Homo sapiens: one gene and its partners. The protein of the gene in region 1 purifies or fractionates together with the protein of each later gene. This does not show direct contact. Each region holds a gene or a part of one and is shown on either strand. Other genes may lie near its edges. The genes, in order: UBE3D, PPM1A, TSC22D3, CPSF4, SUFU and BORA.

What was found.
Region 2: the proteins of UBE3D (region 1) and PPM1A purify together in Homo sapiens (affinity purification with mass spectrometry; 2 studies listed by BioGRID and IntAct, with this or other methods). This does not show direct contact.
Region 3: the proteins of UBE3D (region 1) and TSC22D3 purify together in Homo sapiens (affinity purification with mass spectrometry; one large-scale study listed by BioGRID and IntAct). This does not show direct contact.
Region 4: the proteins of UBE3D (region 1) and CPSF4 purify together in Homo sapiens (affinity purification with mass spectrometry, with the first as the bait; one large-scale study listed by BioGRID). This does not show direct contact.
Region 5: the proteins of UBE3D (region 1) and SUFU purify together in Homo sapiens (affinity purification with mass spectrometry; 2 studies listed by BioGRID and IntAct, with this or other methods). This does not show direct contact.
Region 6: the proteins of UBE3D (region 1) and BORA purify together in Homo sapiens (affinity purification with mass spectrometry; 2 studies listed by BioGRID and IntAct, with this or other methods). This does not show direct contact.

Annotation. Positions count from the first base shown.
Region 1 is NC_000006.12:82,891,882-82,894,841, forward strand, and holds the end of UBE3D (E3 ubiquitin-protein ligase E3D), read right to left. Parts: intron 2,201-2,960; coding exon of another isoform or gene 2,083-2,200; exon of another isoform or gene 1,162-2,082; coding exon 1,141-1,161; coding exon of another isoform or gene 1,022-1,140; 3' UTR 509-1,021; downstream 1-508. UniProt on the Homo sapiens protein: E3 ubiquitin-protein ligase which accepts ubiquitin from specific E2 ubiquitin-conjugating enzymes, and transfers it to substrates, generally promoting their degradation by the proteasome.
Region 2 is NC_000014.9:60,283,719-60,287,226, forward strand, and holds part of PPM1A (protein phosphatase 1A), read left to right. Parts: intron 1-1,905; coding exon 1,906-2,023; coding exon of another isoform or gene 2,024-2,046; exon of another isoform or gene 2,047-3,508. UniProt on the Homo sapiens protein: Enzyme with a broad specificity. Negatively regulates TGF-beta signaling through dephosphorylating SMAD2 and SMAD3, resulting in their dissociation from SMAD4, nuclear export of the SMADs and termination of the TGF-beta-mediated signaling.
Region 3 is NC_000023.11:107,769,286-107,772,793, forward strand, and holds part of TSC22D3 (TSC22 domain family protein 3), read right to left. Parts: intron 1-3,508. UniProt on the Homo sapiens protein: Protects T-cells from IL2 deprivation-induced apoptosis through the inhibition of FOXO3A transcriptional activity that leads to the down-regulation of the pro-apoptotic factor BCL2L11.
Region 4 is NC_000007.14:99,448,939-99,452,446, reverse strand, and holds part of CPSF4 (cleavage and polyadenylation specificity factor subunit 4), read right to left. Parts: intron 2,330-3,508; coding exon of another isoform or gene 2,184-2,329; exon of another isoform or gene 2,178-2,183; intron 2,172-2,177; coding exon 2,076-2,171; intron 1,746-2,075; coding exon 1,652-1,745; intron 95-1,651; coding exon of another isoform or gene 80-94; coding exon 7-79; intron 1-6. UniProt on the Homo sapiens protein: Component of the cleavage and polyadenylation specificity factor (CPSF) complex that play a key role in pre-mRNA 3'-end formation, recognizing the AAUAAA signal sequence and interacting with poly(A) polymerase and other factors to bring about cleavage and poly(A) addition.
Region 5 is NC_000010.11:102,590,970-102,594,477, reverse strand, and holds part of SUFU (suppressor of fused homolog), read right to left. Parts: intron 1,897-3,508; coding exon 1,754-1,896; intron 843-1,753; coding exon 757-842; intron 486-756; coding exon 413-485; intron 1-412. UniProt on the Homo sapiens protein: Negative regulator in the hedgehog/smoothened signaling pathway. Down-regulates GLI1-mediated transactivation of target genes. Down-regulates GLI2-mediated transactivation of target genes. Part of a corepressor complex that acts on DNA-bound GLI1.
Region 6 is NC_000013.11:72,741,417-72,744,924, reverse strand, and holds part of BORA (protein aurora borealis), read right to left. Parts: intron 1,389-3,508; coding exon 1,323-1,388; intron 421-1,322; coding exon 364-420; intron 1-363. UniProt on the Homo sapiens protein: Required for the activation of AURKA at the onset of mitosis.

The DNA of each region.
Region 1 (2,960 bases):
CCAGGTGTGATGGTGGGTGCCTGTAATCCCAACTACTTGGGAGCCTGCGGCAGGCAAATCGCTTGAACCCCAGAGGCGGAGCCTGCAGTGAGCCGAGATCTCCAGCTGGGCAACGAGAGCTAAATTCCATCTCAAAAAAAAAAAAGTGTTAGAAAATTTGCGGATAGAAAACTCAGGGTTTTTGAGGCAAGATATATCAGGTGGTCTGTGGAGATTAATGCCAATTGAGCAGCAAGGATATTTGCAAATCCACAGACTGTCCTCCTGATCCTGGAGTAGGAAAGGAGGATGTCAGAGAGAGATGGATCAGATCTTGGGCAGAGGAGATGGACATGCCTGGCTCCAGTCCCAGCTTTGATCCTAGCTGTGTGATTCTAGGCAAGTCTCAAACGTTCCTTGTGAAATTAGGAGCTAGCGTGTACTCTGTGGGATTCCCTGTAGCTCTATCCTTCTCACTGAAAGGTTTCCTCACCGCTTGTGCTGGTACACAAAGAATAGAACAACTCTGTAACGGGATGCTAGTGAGGTATATTTATTAATTTGCAATAATGTATGGTAAAGGAAATAACAAAAGAAACATGCAGATTTGCATAAATAGGAAATCCTTTAATTTGATAATCATTCATTCAACAAACATCTATTGAGCATCTCCTCTGAATAAAGTATAAAATGTTTTCTACTTTTCTTTTTTAAAATTTGTTTTAAATCATCCTGAGAAACTCTTTAAAAGTTTATTTCCTAGGATTTACAGCAGTTAACATTCAGTTCCACCAATAAAATTCCTCACTGGATTCCACACAGGACAGATGGATCTCCATTAGGTAATAACCTTCCAGGTGGTGCTGACACTGCACATATGTGAATATTCCTCTCTGTGGGAAATAGAGATGTAACTTCTACACTTGCCTCAACCTGCTACTATGACTTTCTTCACAGTCCTGGGTTTTCAAAGATCTAAAGTTAACTCTTCTCTTAGAGAATACATGCAAACAAGTAAACTTAAAACTTCAATGCAATGCTCTTATCCCATAGCTCTGGTTCTTGTCTTTGTAATTGATGCCTCCTGAGCTGACTGCTGGCCTCGGTGTGCTCCTGCTTGAGAGCTGTCTGCCGGGGGAGGAGAATGCCCAGCTCTAATAGTTACATCTTCAAAAAGGCCACCTGGAGAAGGAAGAAAAACCCACAATGCTTTACTTCTATAATATGACAAAATGGCTGCATGTACATCAAATCAGAATCAGGTTAAGTCTGGTCAATAAGATCATATGCTTGTTTAAACAGAAAAATGACTCTTAGTGGATCTAGACATTTTATTTTACAGCAGGAGCCAATTAGTCTTTTTTTAATGAACCATATAGTAATTAAGATGATTCACACGCATTTTAAAGGAGAAAAATAGAGTTTTAATTGAAACTAAAGTTATATTGCTACGAAGTAATCCAGTCCTCATTTCCATCGATTCACAACTATTGTTTTGGACCTTCCATATTTAGAATTCTGAGTCTCATTCCTAGGCGATTCTGGGTCCTCATCCCTATAGGTAATTATACCAGTCTCTCCTAGGTCATTGTGATACTTTCACTTATATTGGTTGGTCAGCAGCAATTCATCTTAAAACCTAGAGTTAAAAAAAATTAATTCACACAGTCTTACGAACAAACTATTTTCAGACTATGTAATGAGGCCTAGATCAAATGCATCTAATTTCCCAATAGTTTTGAAAACAGAAACAAACTTAACAAAGTCAATCATAAATGTTTAGAAAGGTTTAGTTCAGGGGTGACAATAAATTGGGAACTGTGCCAATATGAGGAAGAGAGTCAAGTATAGAGCAGAGATAGATCGTGAAGTATGGGAGGCTTGGGAAGCTCGTATTAGGCGTGAGCAACAGAAGTAAAAACATTCTACTCTTGGGGAAGTATGGGACATCTGTCAATTGCATCAGGAAATTTTGTCCTTAAGTCCCCGAATGCAGTAAAAAGAGGTGTGTATTTAACTATTCTGTTAAAAGAAAAGGTAAAGGGAGGGTCACACAGGGCAGAAAGCATCTGCTTTATGCTGAGTAATTCAGAAGGATGTTACCCTTCATACGGTGCTGGTGAGAAAGGCACCTGCTGAGTTTCCATATCAACTTCCTGCTGAGTTTCTCTATCAAGAGAACACCAAATTGGAAGGAGCAGCAAAGAGGAAAGGTTGATTCCTAAACAAAATGTAAACATGGACAATTGATGCAAACCTCAAGAGCTTACTGTGAAGCTCAAATGAGATCATTGTTAGTTCAAGCTGCACCATTTTGTAAGCCTCGCCCCCACCCCCCCAACCATTTCATAGTCCCAGGTCAAAGTGAAACGTTCCATGGGGGTTCGGACCATGAGAAACATCCTGCCCAACCACCTGACTTTCTTATCATACCCTGCCAGGCAAAGGCCCAACTGAAGGAACATTGCTATCATATCTTGCTGGACAAAGGCCCAAGGAACATCCTATGACATCCCACTGGAAAAAGGGCCAAACCGCCTGATCATAGGAACATCTTATCAATATCCTGCCGGGCGGTAAGCCATACTGCCCAGACCCCTCCCACCCATACCTATAAGTACCCCAGCCTGTAAGCAGCGGTGGGCTCTGGCTGGCATTAACTGGTCCCCCACCTCTGCAGGTCTTGTGCTGCACATAAAACCTGCATTTCTGTAGAGCCGCCAACTCCCTCTGTCTTTAACCCTCACCTTCCCTTCAAAACTTAATAATAATGATTAGGAAAATCCATGTGTTTCCCCTGTCTCTCAGCTGACAAGAGATATTAGAAGCCTGTGAATATACCAGATGAGAAGAGAGGCCAGTAGAGCCTGTTATAATAGACAGAGGAAGGAAGACCAGAAGTCATTGAGTCTGACTTAGGGCTCACTGTGGGCAGCATCCCTGGCAGGCGACATTCTGCTTCTACATAGACAGTTTACAGG
Region 2 (3,508 bases), on another chromosome or scaffold:
CATCTCTGCAAGAGTTATAAGCTGAATGTTTAGTCTTACTACTTGAGCTTTGTAATAATGTGGAAGATTATCAAAGGTAAAAAGATTTTATCAGAGTGCATGTTTTGAAAGAAAGAGGGTGGGGAGGGTTAGGCCTCAGTGTCTATAAATGAAAAGCATTTTAGAGTTTTAATATTTGACCATGTGATATCTCAGTACATTTATGATATCCTAATCCTTTGAAACTAAGGTTTAATGGTCTGTAGCACTTGAAAGAGGAATGTAGTGATCATTAGACGTGATGTAATAGAAATAGCCTTGTACATGGAGTCAGAAGAACTTGCTCTGAGACTGTGTATGGTTTTAGGTAAGCTATTTAAACTCTAATCAGTTTTTTTCATCATAAAAAGGATAAGACATTATTATCTTGTCTCATGGCGTTGTCAGGAGGATCAAATGGGATAATATACACAGGTGAGCTAGCTCAGCCCCTTTATTTTACAGATGAGGAAGCTGAAGCCAGAGAAGGTTCTACAAACTTAAGAGTCAGACAGACCTGAGACCAAGGCTTACCTCTATTAGTTTTGTACTCTACATTCCTGAACGAATTGTTCAACCTCTCTCAGCTTTAAAATGGAGATAATAGTATCTTATAAGACTGTTGCCGGGCGCGGTGGCTCACGCCTGTAATCCCAGCACTTTGGGAGGCCGAGGTGGGCGGATCACGAGGTCAGGAGATCGAGACCATCCTGGCTAACACAGTGAAACCCCGTCTCTACTAAAAAACACAAAAAATTAGCCGGGTGTGGTGGCGGGCGCCTGTAGTCCCAGCTACGCGGGAGGCTGAGGCAGGAGAATGGCGTGAACCCGGGAGGCGGAGCTTGCAGTGAGCCGAGATCGCGCCACTGCACTCCAGCCTGGGCGACAGAGCGAGACTCCGTCTCAAAAAAAAAAAAAAAGACTGTTGAGGAATTAATGAGCGTATGTATATATATATATATGTGTGTGTGTATATATATATATACATATATATATATATAATGCCTAGTTTAGCATATAATACATGCTACACCCTTTCCTACAGATATTATAAATGACGTGTACAGGGTTTTATACATTGCTAACAGCATTAAGACTAGAAAATCAAGGCCCTTGACTTGGGTTCAGTGTTCTTTCTGCCACACTCTGTTCTGTTTTGTCAATAATGCTTATTAACTTATTCTTTGATGTTTTTTTAAACAAATGTTGACTTTTTAAAATTCTTCTGAGGGTATATATTTGATACTCAAATATTTAATTATAGCATTTGAATACTTAGATGTCTTTAAAAATGAATGTAGTTCCTAAAAGTTGTCAGTTTTTAAAATTAATACAAGTTAAAAGCTGGTTTATAAACCTTAGGTAGTTTTACCTCTTATTTCATATTTCTACTTATGAAGCGAATGTATTAGCCCCACAATTTATAATTTATTTTAAAGGTAATTTTATCAGGTACATATAACTACAGGTCAAATCCTATTGTAAACAATGCCACTAAAATTTTCTGTCATGTTGTATGGAAGGAGTGTGTGTACACATGTATATTTGTATTAGGTATCACTTCAAATTAAGTCACCAGTAAATGTTTAGAAATAGTATTGTTTTATAGAATTATAAAAAATTATTATTACAGTGAGATTAACCTGTAATGTTTCTCTCCTGTCTTTTGGAGTATTGGTTATACTGTATTCTCTCTATACTGTTCGGGGGAGGGGGAGTCATTGCACACACACACGCACGCATGCGTGCACATATGTATTTTTTTCTCCCTGAAAGTAACATTTTCACTAGAACAAGTATAACTGTAATTGGCACAGCTGTAAAGGTTCTCAAGGCTTTGAAGAGCAAAAAGAAAACTAAAATATTCTCAAATTTTTTTCTTCCCAGGGAAGTCGAGACAACATGAGTGTGATTTTGATCTGTTTTCCAAATGCACCCAAAGTATCGCCAGAAGCAGTGAAGAAGGAGGCAGAGTTGGACAAGTACCTGGAATGCAGAGTAGAAGGTGGATCATTTAACAAAAAATAAGTAGCTTTATTAAAGAAAAATCTTCAACACAATCAAACTTTAACATTTTAGCTTTTAGATTTTTATGTGTCTTTGACAGCTAGTGTCTAGTGTATGAAAGTGGAAAAGGACATTTCTGTAGTAGCTGTTAAGATGTATGCAGTTGTCCTATCACAGTTATATTAGAAATAACAACTAGTGTGGAAAGTAACCCACATTCTGTTCAGGATACTTTTGTTTTAAAAGGCTAAAATGTTTGTGTGCTTTAAAATTCTTAATGAATTCACTGGCATGAGTAATTTTATGCCGGGAAAATCTGATTTGTGGTCTATTTAATTACAAAGAGATTGTGATGGTGATAATTTGAATACCATCTTTCTATGAAAAGCTGTGTATATTAATTTTAATCTCTAGGGCCTTTTTTCAATAACTTGAAAATCACAGCCTCATCATTAGCAACTTTATATACACAGCTTTAAAAAATTTGCTTTAAACTGTTTCAGAGCTTCTTCCCTAAGCCATAAACTGTCTCACCTAAACAAGATAGACCTCAATAAAAGACATAATATTTCTCCACCTGGCAGAAAAGTAACTGCCAAGTAAGATTAAGAAATAAGTTGAGCATTTCTGGAGTATATTTCTCATAATTCTGCAGAGACTTCCAGTTTATTGCATATATGCAGTAAAGTGTATATATTATGCAGTTTCTCTAAGTGGAAAAACTTGACATGACTTTAATAGTGTTAAAACATGAAAATGCTGGTGAGCTGAGGTAGAAAAAAAACAAGAAAAAAATTTTAAAAATAGCGTTAAAATGCATTTTAGGCTCCTAATGTCGTTAATTTGCACGTTAAAGACCTCTAATCGCATGCAAGCATTGACCTACCACACCTACATCCCACTGTGCCTGCATTATTGAAATTACTACTCACTTTAATTTTTTTTCCCCTTTTTACTGTTTGATACCAATCATAATCAGTCTGATACTAGAATCATGATTGGTTTTGTTCTTTAGTACTGTCTAGAGCTACTATTTTGTTTTTATTGCTGTCCGCCACTTGATAGTCATACATCTAGTATGTGTTTGTACTATTTAGTATTGCATTCATTGGACGTACTATTCAACGAATTTGTCTCCTTACTGTTACCAAGGGTCTTGGAATTTTTATATTTTAAATTAATCATTCAATATAAGTTATTTATAGGTATAGTACAATTTTAAAATATTTAGAATGCTACAATCATTGGTTCAAACTATTGATTCATGGGAAAATTTAAATTCATAAGAATAATATGTATAGGGATAAGTTGATATTTAATGTATTGGCACTTTAACTTGGGCAGACATGTTTTCTTATTGGTTTAAAGAAGTAATAAGTATTTTAATATTTTTACTATGAAATGGGATCCAATTTTAGAAATGAATTGCTACTTTTCTCTTTAGTGTGTACACTTTAAGTTTTAGATGGAATTATGAAATATT
Region 3 (3,508 bases), on another chromosome or scaffold:
TCCATACAATGGAATTTTATTCAGCCATAAAAAGAATGAAGTACTGATATGTGCTACAACATGGATGAACTTTAAAACATGTTGAGTGAAAGAAATCAGACACAAAATATTGTATGATTCAATTTATATGAAATATCTAAATAGGCAAATCCATAGAGACAGAAAGTAGAATAGAGGTTACCAGGGGGTAGTGGGAGGGGAAAATAGGGAAACGGTGAGTTATTCTTTAATGGGTACAGAGTTTTTGTTTGGGATGATGACAAAATTTTGGGAATGATAATGGTTGCACAACATTGTTAATATACCTAATGCTACTGAATCGTACACTTAGAAATGGTTAAAATGGCAAATTTTATATCTATTTTACCACTATATATATATATGTACTATGTACAATATATGCATATAATACATCTCTCTCTTTCTCTTTCACACACACACACACACACACACACACACACTAGTAGATGTGGGGTAGGGCACCAGGCTCACTCATTGGTGAAAGGACCGGCCCCCACCTACTAGTCTCCTTGCACATGTGATTCACATCTGTGCCTCAGCAAAAACACAGTTTCTTACCAGTCTGAGTTCTCATGAAGTATCCAAACCATGAATGTTAAGTTTGCAAATGCATTTGTGCTTTTAATGGAGAAGGTCCCTTAATCCAAGAATGCCTATTCTTTGTCAGACCACTAGGCACTCAGGAAATAGTTATTTTAAATTACTTTGGGCTATGAAAGGACTTTTGAAGCTTGATACCAAAAGCAAAAATCACAAAGGCAAAGAATGACAGGCTTAACCACACAGAAACCCAAAACCGCTCTACAGCGAGTAACTCCATCCTCAAAATCAAATGGTAAATTAGTTGACAATGCGTTGCAATCTCTAATACAGGGTTTCTCACAGTGTGGTCTACATACCAGCGGTGCTCTGGGAGAGGAATTTTAGATGGTACATGGACAGAGAACTGAATCTTAAATAGTATGAACTTAGGCACTGCAGCAGGCAGCCACTCAAATCATGCCGTGTGAGTGGCCACCACCTCAGAAGCCAGGTCCAGGAATATACATTATGAAATTACTTGTTCTGAGACTCACTTAGAGAAGCACAAATAATTTTTTGCACAAATTTTTCTTGAAAACCTGATCTCTGAATCTATATCCTTCCCCTTTGTTACTATATTAATAGGGGATATTAAATGAATTAGCACACATAAAGCAATTAGAAATGTTTGCTATTTTTATCATTTTCTGAGCATTTATATATGGGAACCAGTTGGGGCCAGGTCAGAAGCTTAAAGGTAGAATCCTAGGGTTTTTAGAGCTGGAAGGGAAATCGGATTCAGAGTATTTCAGACCACACTAGCCAGGTACGCTCTGGGGTCAAAGGTAGAATAGAGCTGATTAAGAGGTTTTGGGTAAAATCTTAGAAAAAAATTTGAGGTTACAGCAACAGCAATCACAACGAATACTGTCAAAGCTCCTGTTACAGGTTGTTATACCTTACAGGTCAGAAAAATTAAGGAAGGCTCTTCAAATGTCAACTTGGGAAGCTTTTTCATATGCTACATTTAAATTGGAAACTTCTGCTGTTTGCCCAGAATATTCTATCTCCCTCCTAAGTTTTCCAGTATTAGAAGCATATTCAAATGACAAGGGGGAAGTCCCCTAACAACAGGGTGACCAACCATCCCAGTTTCCCTAGGACTGTTCCAGTTTGAGCACAGGCAGTCCTATGTCACAGGACTGGGATGGTTGGTTTCCCTACCTAATAAGGACATTTTGACCATTTGGAAAGGTTCTGAGCTCACATTTACCTCTGCTTCATAGACAATTCTTAAGTGTTACAAGAATTTCTTTAGCATTAGTTTAGTTACTGAGTGTTCTTAACAATTCTTTCTTCATAGACAATTCAGGCTCTGCTCTTCATTGTGAGGCATTGGGCAAGATACTTAATTTTTTCCAAGCCTCAATTTCCTTCTTTATAAAATGAAAATGGATGATAATAGTACCCATTTGGTCGGGCGCAGTGGCTCATGCCTGTAATCCCAGCACCTTGGGAGGCCGAGGCTGGTGGATCATTTGAGATCAGGAGATCGAGACCAGCCTGACTAATATGGTGAAACCCCATCTCTACGAAAAATACAAAAATTAGCCGAGTGTGGTGGCGTGCGCCTGTAGTCCCAGCTACTGAGGAGGCTGAGACAGGGGAATTGCTTGAACCCAGGAGGTGGAGACTGCAGTGAGCTGAGATCGTGCCACTGCACTCCAGCCTGGGCGACAGAACAAGACTCCGTCTCAAAATAAATAAATAAATAAACAAATAAATAAATAAATCCATTCCAAAGAGTTGATGTAAATATTAAATTAGATTATGCAGGTACATTGTGAATGTTCAAGAAGTGTTAGTTATTAATCTGTTATGGTTATTAGTTACATAATACAAGATTGAAAGGATGGTGTTTAAAATACACTTCTTCCCCAACCCAATTGTTTACAGGTACCATTTACATACCAACAGGCTGCATGCCCATTCTCACTGATTCGTATGTATATACACAGCACTATCAGGACTTCCATCAGGCTATGAGAGTTACTGCATGTGGTTAAAACGGAAGGAAAACAACTTTTAAACATTAATAAGGATTTTCTAGCACAGTATAAAGTTGTAAAATCTTTACAAGGGACCACGTCAATATTTAAGTAGTCATCCAACTGAAGAAACCTTTATTGAATATTGGCTGTATAACTAAAAGCCAAGGGAAAACCAAGCAAGTAAAACACAGCCCTACCCTCAAATTGCTTATACTCTTGTGTTCCAAGGAAACCAAGAACGAAGCTGGGAGCCAGGGACAGGTCAAAGCAGACAAACCAGATGTAAATCAAGAATGTGCCCTGCTCTTCTTCCTAAAAATATAGGAGCCCTCTTGGCAAAGGAATGGACTGCAGGAGGAGGGGTGGGAGACTAGCTTCTCCAGCAGGAGAGGCCTTGAAAGTTGACAAAGGAAAAAAGCACCCAACAGGAACCTGAAATGTCAAATCATTAAATTGAATAGAAGTAAAAACGATGGCTGAAGTATGATGATAGAAACCCAGGGAATTTAATGAAGTAACAAGGGATATGTTCACTTAGGAGAAGGCTGTCTACCCCAGATATTGGAGAAGCCCCATGACCAGCAATAATGGTCTTCTAGTTTGCTAATGAGCATGTCATACTGGGCAAAACCTAAACCGAATTCAGAATCCCCAGTCTCTAAGGTCCCAATTGTCAAGGAAAACAAGAGGGGATCAGTGGCTCATGCCTGTGATCCTGGCACTTTGGGAGGCTGAGGTGGGCAGGTCGCTTAAGCCCAGGAGTTTGAGACCAGCCTGCACAACATGGCAAGATCCCGTCCCTATAAAAAAAAAATACAAAAATTAGCTGGGCATGGTGGTGTGTGCCTGTAGTCCCAGCTACTTGGGAGGCTGAAGTGGGAGGATCGATGGAGCCCAGGAGTTTGAGGCTGCAG
Region 4 (3,508 bases), on another chromosome or scaffold:
CGGTACCTTTGCTGGAGGCTGTGTCTGCTGCGGCAGTGGGGGCTGCTCGGTGGTTCCCATGGGCAGTTCAAATCGAGGGCTGGTCACCAGCAGCCAGAGGGGATGAGAACAAGAGAAGGAGTGGGGTCAGGGGATGAGAAGAGAAGCCAGGCCATGCTCTTAAATTCCAGCCCTAGGAAAATCACACTCAGCTGCCCCAGCACAAAGTGACTGACACAAGCTGCATGGATGGGGTGGTGGCTGGCACTCAGCTCTGCTCCTGGGAGGCCACAGGAGTGGCGGGGAGAACAGAACTGACTTGCCTGGGCTCAGACCCAACCCTGCCTACACCGAGCTGGGAGACTCATGGCCAGTGCTTCTCGGAAATGACAAAGGCTGTGCTGGTGCGTGCCTGCTGCGCCACAGGAGCTGTACACAGGGAAGCCCCCCTCCCCGCAGGGTCTTACTCTGGCGTCAGCCCCTCCTCCCATCACTTGGTGACGGTCTGCCCCTGAGCCACCTGCAGGTGCCTGCACTCTCATTCAGGGAGTGAGACCCAGTGACAGCACCGGCCACTTCCCTGCAGTGAGAAGCAGGGACCAGGGTTCCCACAGACCTGGAGACTGTTATCCTGCTGTAGGTTCAGCAGTGTGGGCGAGGCAGCCGGGAGGAAGGGAGGCTTGTCTGTGGCCCCAGTGCCACCCCAGGCAGAAGCCCAGGTCCACAACCAAAGTGACAGATGGGCACTGGGCTCCAAGGACAAGAAAATGGAGCCACAAGAGGGGTGCTAACCCCACAGAGCAAGAATTAAAACCCGTCTTCGGAGGCTCACAGACTTGCTATTTATTTATTTTATTTATTTAGAGATGGAGTCTTGCTCTGTCACCCAGGCTGGAGTGCAGTGGCACGATGTTGGCTCACTGCAACTTCCACCTCCTGGGTTCAAGTGATTCTTTTGCCTCAGCCTCCCAAGTAGCTGGGACTACAGGCACGCGCCGCTACACCTGGCTAATTTTTGTATTTTTAGTAGAGACGGGGTTTCACCATATTGGCCAGGCTAGTCTCGAACTCCTGACCTCGTGATCCGCCTTCCTCTGCCTCCCAAAGTTATGGGATTACAGGCGTGAGCCACCACACCCAGCCCAGACTTGCCTTTGACCAGGTGCCACCACCTGCTACCATGTGCCCTTGGCCAGGGACTGAGCCCTGTGCCTCAGTGTGCTGCTGTGTGAAATGGGTGCGTTCTCTCCTACCCTCACTGTTAGACGACTACTTATTCTATGTGAAACCCCAAGCTCAGGGTTTCCTGAGCCTCCACATGGGAGGCTCTGAAATTCTTTCCTTTAGGGCACAGGTTCTTAACTGGAAGTCCCCAAATTCCCTAAATGATATGCAAGGCTACATGTTTGTCTGTATCCCACAGCTTCCATTACATTACCAGATGGCCCATGACCCAAGAAAGATCAGCTCCTGGTCTAGGCAGAGCCACCTGCGGGCTCAGGAAGCATTGGTGGCCATAAGCAGGGATTACTTCCCCATCTCCTGCCCCCACCCTTGGCCCTGGTACTGACATCACCCAGTGACCAAGGCCCAGTTGGCCCAGGGAAGATACGGAGGGCAGCAGGGCCTGGGCCGGGAGCTGGGGTAGAGGGCGGAGCAGCTGGCTACTCACTGCATGAATTTACACGAGGGCCCCTCCGGGCAGAATCCCACGAGGTAATTCACACAGATGACTCTCCGTGTGTGCCGGTGCCTGCAGAGGGGACCTGCAGAGCCAAGTGTCCGGTCACTTAGATGTCCCCTCTACCAGTTAGAGAGCTGGAGCATGGTTTCAAATGCTGGCTGTCCCCCATTCATGGGAGACGGGGCAGGGACCTCACCTCCCAACACTGGCCTCCTTATCAAAAAAGCGGGTGGACCACCACCCACCCAGCATTCTTGGGAGAGGCAAGGGAGATGAGGAGTGTGAGAAAGCCGCTAGCTGCAGAATGTCAGGTTTTGCTGGGACAGGTAGACCAGCTGGCAGCCTCCAGGGTCGTGGGCAGAGAAGGGAGGACTGGCTTCTTGCCCGGGGCCCAGCCCACCCTGGCACCTACCGTGCTTGCAGAAGCCACGGTCATACCAAGGACAGTCCTTGATCTTGGACTCGGGGTCGATGTGCAGGAAGGGACATTCCTTGTTGCTGCACTCCCCTGCAGGGAAACTCAGACGTGAGACCACTGGGAAGGCCGGGGCCAGGCCCACCTTGGCTTCATCCAAGGAAAAGAGGTTCTGGTGTCCAGTTTTGGCCTGACGAGCCCTGAGAGCCAGGGAAGAGTGTTTCTGAGCCCCAGCTTCCTGTGCAGCGGAGCTGTGATGGAAATGCACCCATTGAGACCAGGAAGTTCCATTCTGATTGGCTCTTCACATCTAAGAGCTGGGACAAGGGTAGGGGAAGCACTTGTGGACCTGGCCCTCTCCAAAGCAGCGGACCCCAGGGACCACCAGCACCAAGAACCGCCTTCCTGAGTAGTTGCCCGCTTCCAGGCTCACCTTCTCCAATCCATGTTTACAACTGTGCTCAAAATCCAGAGGAAATGCAAACTCCTTCCCCAGGCCCCTCCGCAGGCTCAGCCTCTGCCACCCCCCAGCCACATGGGTCCCCCTGTACCAGGACCAGCCCCTTCTTAGTCTTCCGCTTCCAGCTCAGGAATCCCCTCATCCTTGACCACTCAGCCTAGAGAAGGTTCTGGTCACGGTTTCCTTCCTTCAAAGCACTTGTCACAAGCAATTTCTTCTCTGTTCGTCTCATGGCCTATCAGCTACCTCTTTCCCTGGACCACAAGAGTGAAGGCTTCACAGGGCAAGGACCTCTTCACCATTGTCCCTCCAGTGCCTGGAAAGGGGGCCCTCAACCCAATGTCTGTGGTGCAGGTGACAGAAGCTGCAGACAGTGCGTCCTGCACCAGGGCTGTCAGCAAGGAAGGAGCGACCCTCAGGCCACTTGTATAGCGGTGCCTTAAGAGCCTGCCCAGGAGAGCCAGCTGCTGCCTCTGGGGACAGATGGGAGGCCACTGCCCCATCCCAGTGCTGCCCCAGTGCTGCTATGGGCAAGGCATCGGGGGGAACATGCTACATTGCACAATGACAGGGACAGCACTTGGGGAGCTGGGAAGCTTGGGTCCTATTTCTTCTCAGCTTATGCCACCTCCACAAAACAAGCCACAGCTCTCATTGATAAGCCAGCAGGCCACGCCTGATGGGATGCTGAAATAATTAATGTCTCCTCCAACAGCAGTGCTTTGAAAGCATGAAGCATACCCTGCACTCCCTGGCTCCCTGCAGGATTCCAGCCTCCTGCCGGGCTCCCTGCACAGGACCAGAGCCAGCCTCACGCTGACCCACAGAGCTGCTTCCCGGGAAACCTGGAAGTGCAGACCTGAGCGGGGACCCTGGGGACTCCTTCCAGCAGGGAGCACATCTCTGCCAGACTCCGTGCCAGCCCCACTGACTCCACCCGGGCTCCCGCTTCTCCACGCAGGCCACTCAG
Region 5 (3,508 bases), on another chromosome or scaffold:
ATGGAGTCAGTATCACCTACACTACTGTCTGGTACAGGGCGGTGGTGGCCGTGGTGGCTCCCTAAAAGAAAGTCTGGGAGGCAGGAGAATGAATACTGGGCAAGCAAGCAATATCCACTACACTTATCTTTTATTGCTGGCAATCTAATTTTTTAAGCCAATATATAATTTACATACAATAAAAATATCCTTTTAAAATGCCAAAATACATATGTCTGAGGACTAGCTTTCCTGGGCTGAAACCTCTGCTCCCTACGTGCTCTGCAGAATTCAGGGGACAAGTTCCAAGTGATGCCATATTTCTACTCACTCACACATAAAGGTCCTCTGTTTTCCCAGGATGAAAGCCAGTGTTATTTGGAAGAGGCCTAGGCACAGGGTGCTAGAAAGGTTTTCCTCACTCAAGACATACTTGCAGGTGTGGATCGATCTCAAATATGGTCTCTCCCCTCCGCATGTCAGTTATCAGCCAGGGGCCGCCAGCACTGTGGACAAGGAAAGGGGATACAATGGTAACTGAGGGTCTGGGGCTGATGGGCTGGGCCTACAGCCTGCCCTGTTTGCTGCCCCAGGCCTAGGACACAGGGGAATAGTTCGTGGTCAGGGACTGTCAGGGAGTGAGTCGTCAGGAAGCCCTGATGTGAAAAACCAGGGTCTGAAATAACAACGCAAGAGGGAGCCCCACATGGAGGGTAGTGGAGGGACTCCCACCCCCAGGCCCAGGGAGCCGCGCTCCCACCTTGCATGGGTACTCACATAGGCACTGTCCGCAGCAGCTCCAGGATGCCCTGCCCGTTCCACTGCTGGGCTGAGTGTAGCTCTTCAGTGCAGACACCAACGATCTGAGGCCCAGGATAGAAAGCCCATTGTGTGTTAATGGCCACCCCCCACCCCAAGAAGGTCAGCTACCCAGGCTCTCTGAGTCACCTCCAGTTGGGAGACCACAGGCAGGATCTGTGCTCAGGAGCTGGTGCAGCCAAGATTGGATGATTCCCTTAGGAGGGAGTGGCTGCCTGGCTGGGAAATGGCTGGGTCCACATGTGGGCCCTGAGGCCTGACCCTTGCCCTTGCTGTGTCTGGATGACACCAAGTCTAGCTCTTAGCTACAAAGGAGAAAACCAAGGCCTGAGCAACTCAAGATGTGTCCTCAGGCCATGTCTCTGGAAGTAGGGGAGGTTCAGGGAGCCATTCCTACCCAGTCTGGTATCATGGGGAATGTAAACAAGAGACTTTGAGACCTATCAGGCTTGGAACCACCACCAATAGGTCATAGCAGCCTGCAGAGAAACTCCTCCCTTCCTTATTAGGGGATAGGCCTTTGTGTAAATATCAAGGGAATCAGTGGAACCTTCACATAGACTTCGTGACCAAAAACAAGCACTGGTCAAAGCTGGGCAGGTTCCCACAGCTTCTGGCAAAGAGCAAGGACGACCCAGAGCTGGCTTCCCGCTGGAAAGTCCTGTTCCTGAGACTGGGTCTTCACTGTTCAAAGAATACCCGCCACCCCATTACTCCCTCTCAGCTACAGCCATTCTCTCCCAACCAAATGCCCCCTTCCCTTTCTCCCCTCTCCCATCTCAGCAGGTTAAATCAGACCATCTGAATCTACCTGACAAACCATCAGAGGAAACAGAAATCAGGACGAGGCCAAAGGAAACCTCCCACTCCCTTCACTCCCCCTCCTCAAGCCTCCTTGTCCTCCCAGGACCCTTCCCACAGGAAGGCTTGAGCCAGCGTCCAACCTGTGCCTCACCTGGAGGAAGGTAACTACCCCAAAGGGTGTCTGCACGGGCTGCATCTGTGGGTCCTCTGTCAGCAGCATGTGCTGAATTCTTGACTCACTGTTATCCAAAGGGCTGTGCCAGGACACATGGTCCCCACTGCAGAAGGTGTTCTCTGTGGGAGAGATACAAGGATCCTCATTGTTCAAGGCCCCAGATCCAGGCCTGGAATCTGGGCTGGGATCTCACTAGCCCAGGCTGGGAGGCTTCCCAGCCTCTTAGGGTAGCCCCTGTGAAGGAAGAGAAGCATTCACTCCGGATGGAAGCAAAGAGTTTGTGGATATTTCCAAAAACCTAAATTGTTCCTGCTTGCCAGTTCTGTCAGACTTGAAAAGGACAGGCTATTAGTGTGAAAGCTCCTTCGGCCTGGGAAACCAGAAAGACTTCTGGCATCTGCTTCGCTTCCCCAATATCCCGACTCATGGTGGGAGGCAGGAGCCATGACTGGATCTGCCAAGAAAGAATAAGGTGCTTTTCTGTAGGGCCACCTGGCCAGAAGTCCACAGAGAGGCAACAGGGCAATGAAAGCCCTTCACCTTGGAGAAACAGACCGAAATTCCTATGTTGCTGAAATGGCACTCAGAAGGAAACATCGAACCTTGGAGAGCCTTTGAAATCTATCACCATTTTCCCACAGGCAGATGTAGGAATTCCTGAGGAACACTAGGCTTCAAGTAAATGGAGGTCTAAATAGTGCCTCCCACACCGTGGCAGAGACAACTCATGAGGATCCTCAGGCCATGTCTCTGAGATGTTCAGATTCTGCCAAGGGTAGCTGTTGCCATGAGGGCATAGCCTCCTCACACACAGGCTCACCACTGCACTTCAAGCAGGTACGTTACTTTAGAGAGAGTTTTGTTTAAGGCCACATAACCACAAGGGAAAACAACCCCACAGGGTACTAAGTCTCTCACCAGCTCTGACTCTCATCGTGGGTGCCAAGGTGCTCTATATGTCCAGCCTATGCATCCACAGGCTCCCTTCCATGTTTTGTCCTTACACAAATGGAAGCACACTATTCTGCAGATTTCACTTAATTATATATCTTAGACAGCACCTTTTTTTTTTTAATATGGAACACTTCACGAATTTGCATGTCATCCTTGCGCAGGGGCCATACTAATCTTCTCTGTATCGTTCCAATTTTAGTATATGTGCTGCTGAAGTGAGCACGAGATCACCTTTTTTTTTTTTTTTTGAGATGGAGTCTCGCTCTGTTGCCAGGCTGCAGTGCAGTGGCGCGATCTCTGCTCACTGCAACCTCCGCCTCCTGGGTTCAAGCGATTCTCCTGCCTCAGCCTCCTGAGTAGCTGGGATTACTGGCATGTGCCACCACACCTGGCTAATTTTTTGTATTTTTAGTAGAGGTGGGATTTCACGGTGTTAGCCAGGATGGCCTCGATCTCCTGACCTCGTGATCCGCCCTCCTCGGCCTCCCAAAGTGCGGGGATTACAAGTATGAGCCACAGCACCCAGCAGAGATCACTGCTTCTCAGCATATGGAGAGCTATCTCATTCTTTAAATGGCTGTTCCAGAGTTCACTATGGTCTGTCATTCACGATCTCGGAATCTCAACAGTTGAGGTATCTTTCTTCACTTTTTATCAATATTTAAGGTAAGGCAGAACACACACATACACACACAGACACACCTTTTCCATCCAAGATACGGCTTCAGTTATTGGTCCTAACCTCAATAGTGTTCATTCAGGCAGGAGAAGGAAGAC
Region 6 (3,508 bases), on another chromosome or scaffold:
TTCTGTTACTCAACTTTTAAGAAGCCAGCATGCACTATGTTTGAATTTTTTCCCAAAAAGAGGGCAAAGTTTAATTGCATATTTGATGTTTTACATCTTAAATTATTCCTTAGTTTTTAAGTGCTACATTGTTAGTATAATATCAATAAAATGTTTATAGTTTCTGTCTATAGTAATAAAGTTCACTATGATAATAAGGCTAGTTCAAACCATGTTCAAGAAAAAGAGAAATTTCAGGGCAGTTTCCCCACTTCTTTAGAAAGAGGCACTGCCACATATTTCCCATGTTACCATTTACAAAAAGCCAGCCAAACAAAACCTTTGGTTCAAGTTATTAAAAGTTTAAACAAATACAGTATTTACCTAATATATTTTCTAAATTAAAATCCACAGGAAGAGACAGCAATGTCTGACAAGCAGCTGGAAACAAGCAAATAAATAAACAAATTCAAACATGGGATAAATCAATGAAAGTATACACTATACAATTCAGCATGTGCTGCCCAGTCAATCATCTCCCCGTGATGTTCCAGCCAAATGGAATTATTCATTTCTGCATTCTATCACATACCCTGCCACCTTTCTAGAAGTGGTTTCCCACACTCTCCGCAACTGGTGTAAACGTGTTAATAGTAAAAGTTAACTCCTGGCTCTGGTACTGGCACTTGAAAAGGAAGCCAGCCTATATCTGGGGGGAGATTTCTCACATTAACCAATTTTCAAAAGAATGCTTTCCAAGACCAGAAATCAATTCACATGCTTTGAACAAGAAAACAAAACACTAGTGCTATTTCTAAAACATGGCTGGATGCATCTGTTCTACTATACTTGTTTTTAAAGGTCAGCTCTCATATGGTTATTATGTAGCTCATTGAAAAAATCCAAACAGGCCAGGCTTGGTGGCTCATGCCTGTAATCCTAGCACTTTGGGGGGCCAAAGTGGGCAGATCGCTTGAGCCCAGGAGTTCGAGACCAGCCTGGGCAACATGGCGAAATGCTGTCTCTACAAAAAAATACAAAAATTAGCCAGGTGTGGTGGCGGGTGCCTGTAGTCCTAGCTACTGAGGAGGCTGCGGTGGGAGGATCACTGGAGCTCGGGAAGTCAACGGGAAGTCAAGGTTGCAATGAGCTCTTGATTGTGCCACTGCACTCCAGCCTGGGTGACAGAGTGTGACCCTGTCTCAAAAAAACAAAAATAAATTAAAAAAAAAAAAAGGAAACAATTTCAATTCCAGAGTAAAGTGTTACTACCTGAACTGGGTTTAGAATTCAATGTAGCTTAATATGGAACATCCTTCTTTTCAAATTGTGTTCATACTCACCATCGCTTTTCTCAGAATGAATGGTCAGCTTTTTTCCAACTGGAGAGTCACTATTTATGTTAGTGCCTGTAAGACATTTTAAGTGAAAAATCCTATGTTTTATACTCTTCATTTGCTTTAGCATTACTTTTTCCAAAGTAAAAAATTAAGAAAGTGGAAACTTATTTTGCAACATTAAAAAAAATCTGCATATATAAGTATATATTTTGGTATGTTTCTATTATTTTTTTACCTTTGAGGGAATACAAGGATAAAACTAAAGGATTACCACAGCAAATAAGGAGTCACCAAGCAATATTTTTTTTACATTTTTCTTTAAATAATTGTATACATTTATGGGGTACAATGTGATGTTTCAATATATGTATACACTATGACAAGAGCAAATCAAGCTAATTAACATATCCATTGCCTCAAATACTTTTCTTTGTGGTGGGAACATTTAAAATCCACTTTCAGCAATTTTGAACTATATGATACCTCATTATCAGCTATAGTTACCTGGCTGTGCAACAGATCACCAGAACTTATTCCTCCTGTCTAACTGAAACTTTGTACCCTTTGACCAACATCTCCCCCACCACCCCTCCTCCCTACCGTCTGGTAACCACCACTCTATTCTCTACTTCTAAGAGTCTGACTTTTTTAGATTCTACATATAAGTGAAATCATTCAGTATTTGTCTTTCTGTGGCTGGCTTTTTTCACTTAGCATAATGTCCTCTAGATTCATATATGTTGTCACAAATGACAAAATTTCCTCTTTTTTAAGGCTGAATAGTATTCCATTTTGTGTGTGTGTGTGTGTGTGTGTGTGTGTGTGTGTGTGTGTGTGTATATATATATATATCACATTTTAAAAAGTCCATTCATCTGTTGATGGACACTTAGGTTGACTCCATATCTTGGCTGTTGTGATTAACGATGCAGCAATAAATATGAGAGTGCAGGTATCTCTTTGAAATAGTAATTTTGGTTCCTTTGGATAAATACCCAGTAGTAGGACTGATGAATCCCAAAGTAATGTTTTTTTTTTAAGGAAATGATGATTACTCTTCATGACGTCAACCTTAAAAGGTTAGGGATACCTTTTAGCTACCCTCAATGTCCTCAACAGATTAAAATGCCAGATTATTTTGACAAAACCTGAAATTTGATCAATAAAACCATATAGTTTCTTTCACAAGAAGAGTTAAAAATATGGGTGCAAATTATTTTAACTCTAAAGTTTTATAAATTGAAAAATCACCAGATTAAAAAAACTCAAAAACCAAAACCATCTCAAAAAGACTAATATAAGTAAGATAAAAGGAAGAAAAAGCAAGGGGACCAAACAAACCCCCCCTCCCCCCAAAACCAGAAACAACTCAGGAATTCTAAAATAAAATGACAAAATAGAGTGTAGTAACCTAACAATTCTAAATTTTAAAATGGGTAAGTGGGTTGCTGAATAAATTAAATTTCCCTGTGAAATACTATCAAAACGGGTAAATAAAGAAAATTTTGGATGCAGATGACTTTGTCACTGCATGCAGAGTGACCTTCTATAAGGCAGATGTAATCAATACTCTCTCTGCCTAAAACCCTGCAATAGTCTTTAGGATAAAATCCAAACACCTCAATGGCTTACAAAGCCTTTCAAAACCATGTCTATTTCTCTAGCATGGTTGCCATCTAATTAAATATTATTTGAGTACCTAAAACAAACAAACAAGAAACAGGTATCTCTCTCATCTCTAGGTATTATCTTATGCTCTCTCCTCCCTGCCTTTTCTCCCCTGCATTCCAAGAGTCTAACTCAAATCTCAGCTTAAATTTTATCTTCTGCCAGCATGCCTTCCTTGCCTTCCTCAGACCAGAAAGACACCTACAGCAACATTATCACATCACTTTTCAACTCTATTCCAAGTGTTTTGGTTGCTTCCCCTAGAAGGGCTTAGACAAGTTTAAGACCACAATCAAATGAGGAAAAAAAAAAATCGATGGATTTGACTGCACCAAAATAAAAATTTCTATGCAACCCAGGATATCAAGAACAAAGAGTAACATACATATGACAGAATGGGAGATAACATTTGAAATGTTTAAGACCAATATAACCACAATATGTAAGGTATCTTAGAAATTAACAGGAAAAAAAAGGTTAGCAACTCCAATTGAAACATATCAATGAATTACAAATAGACA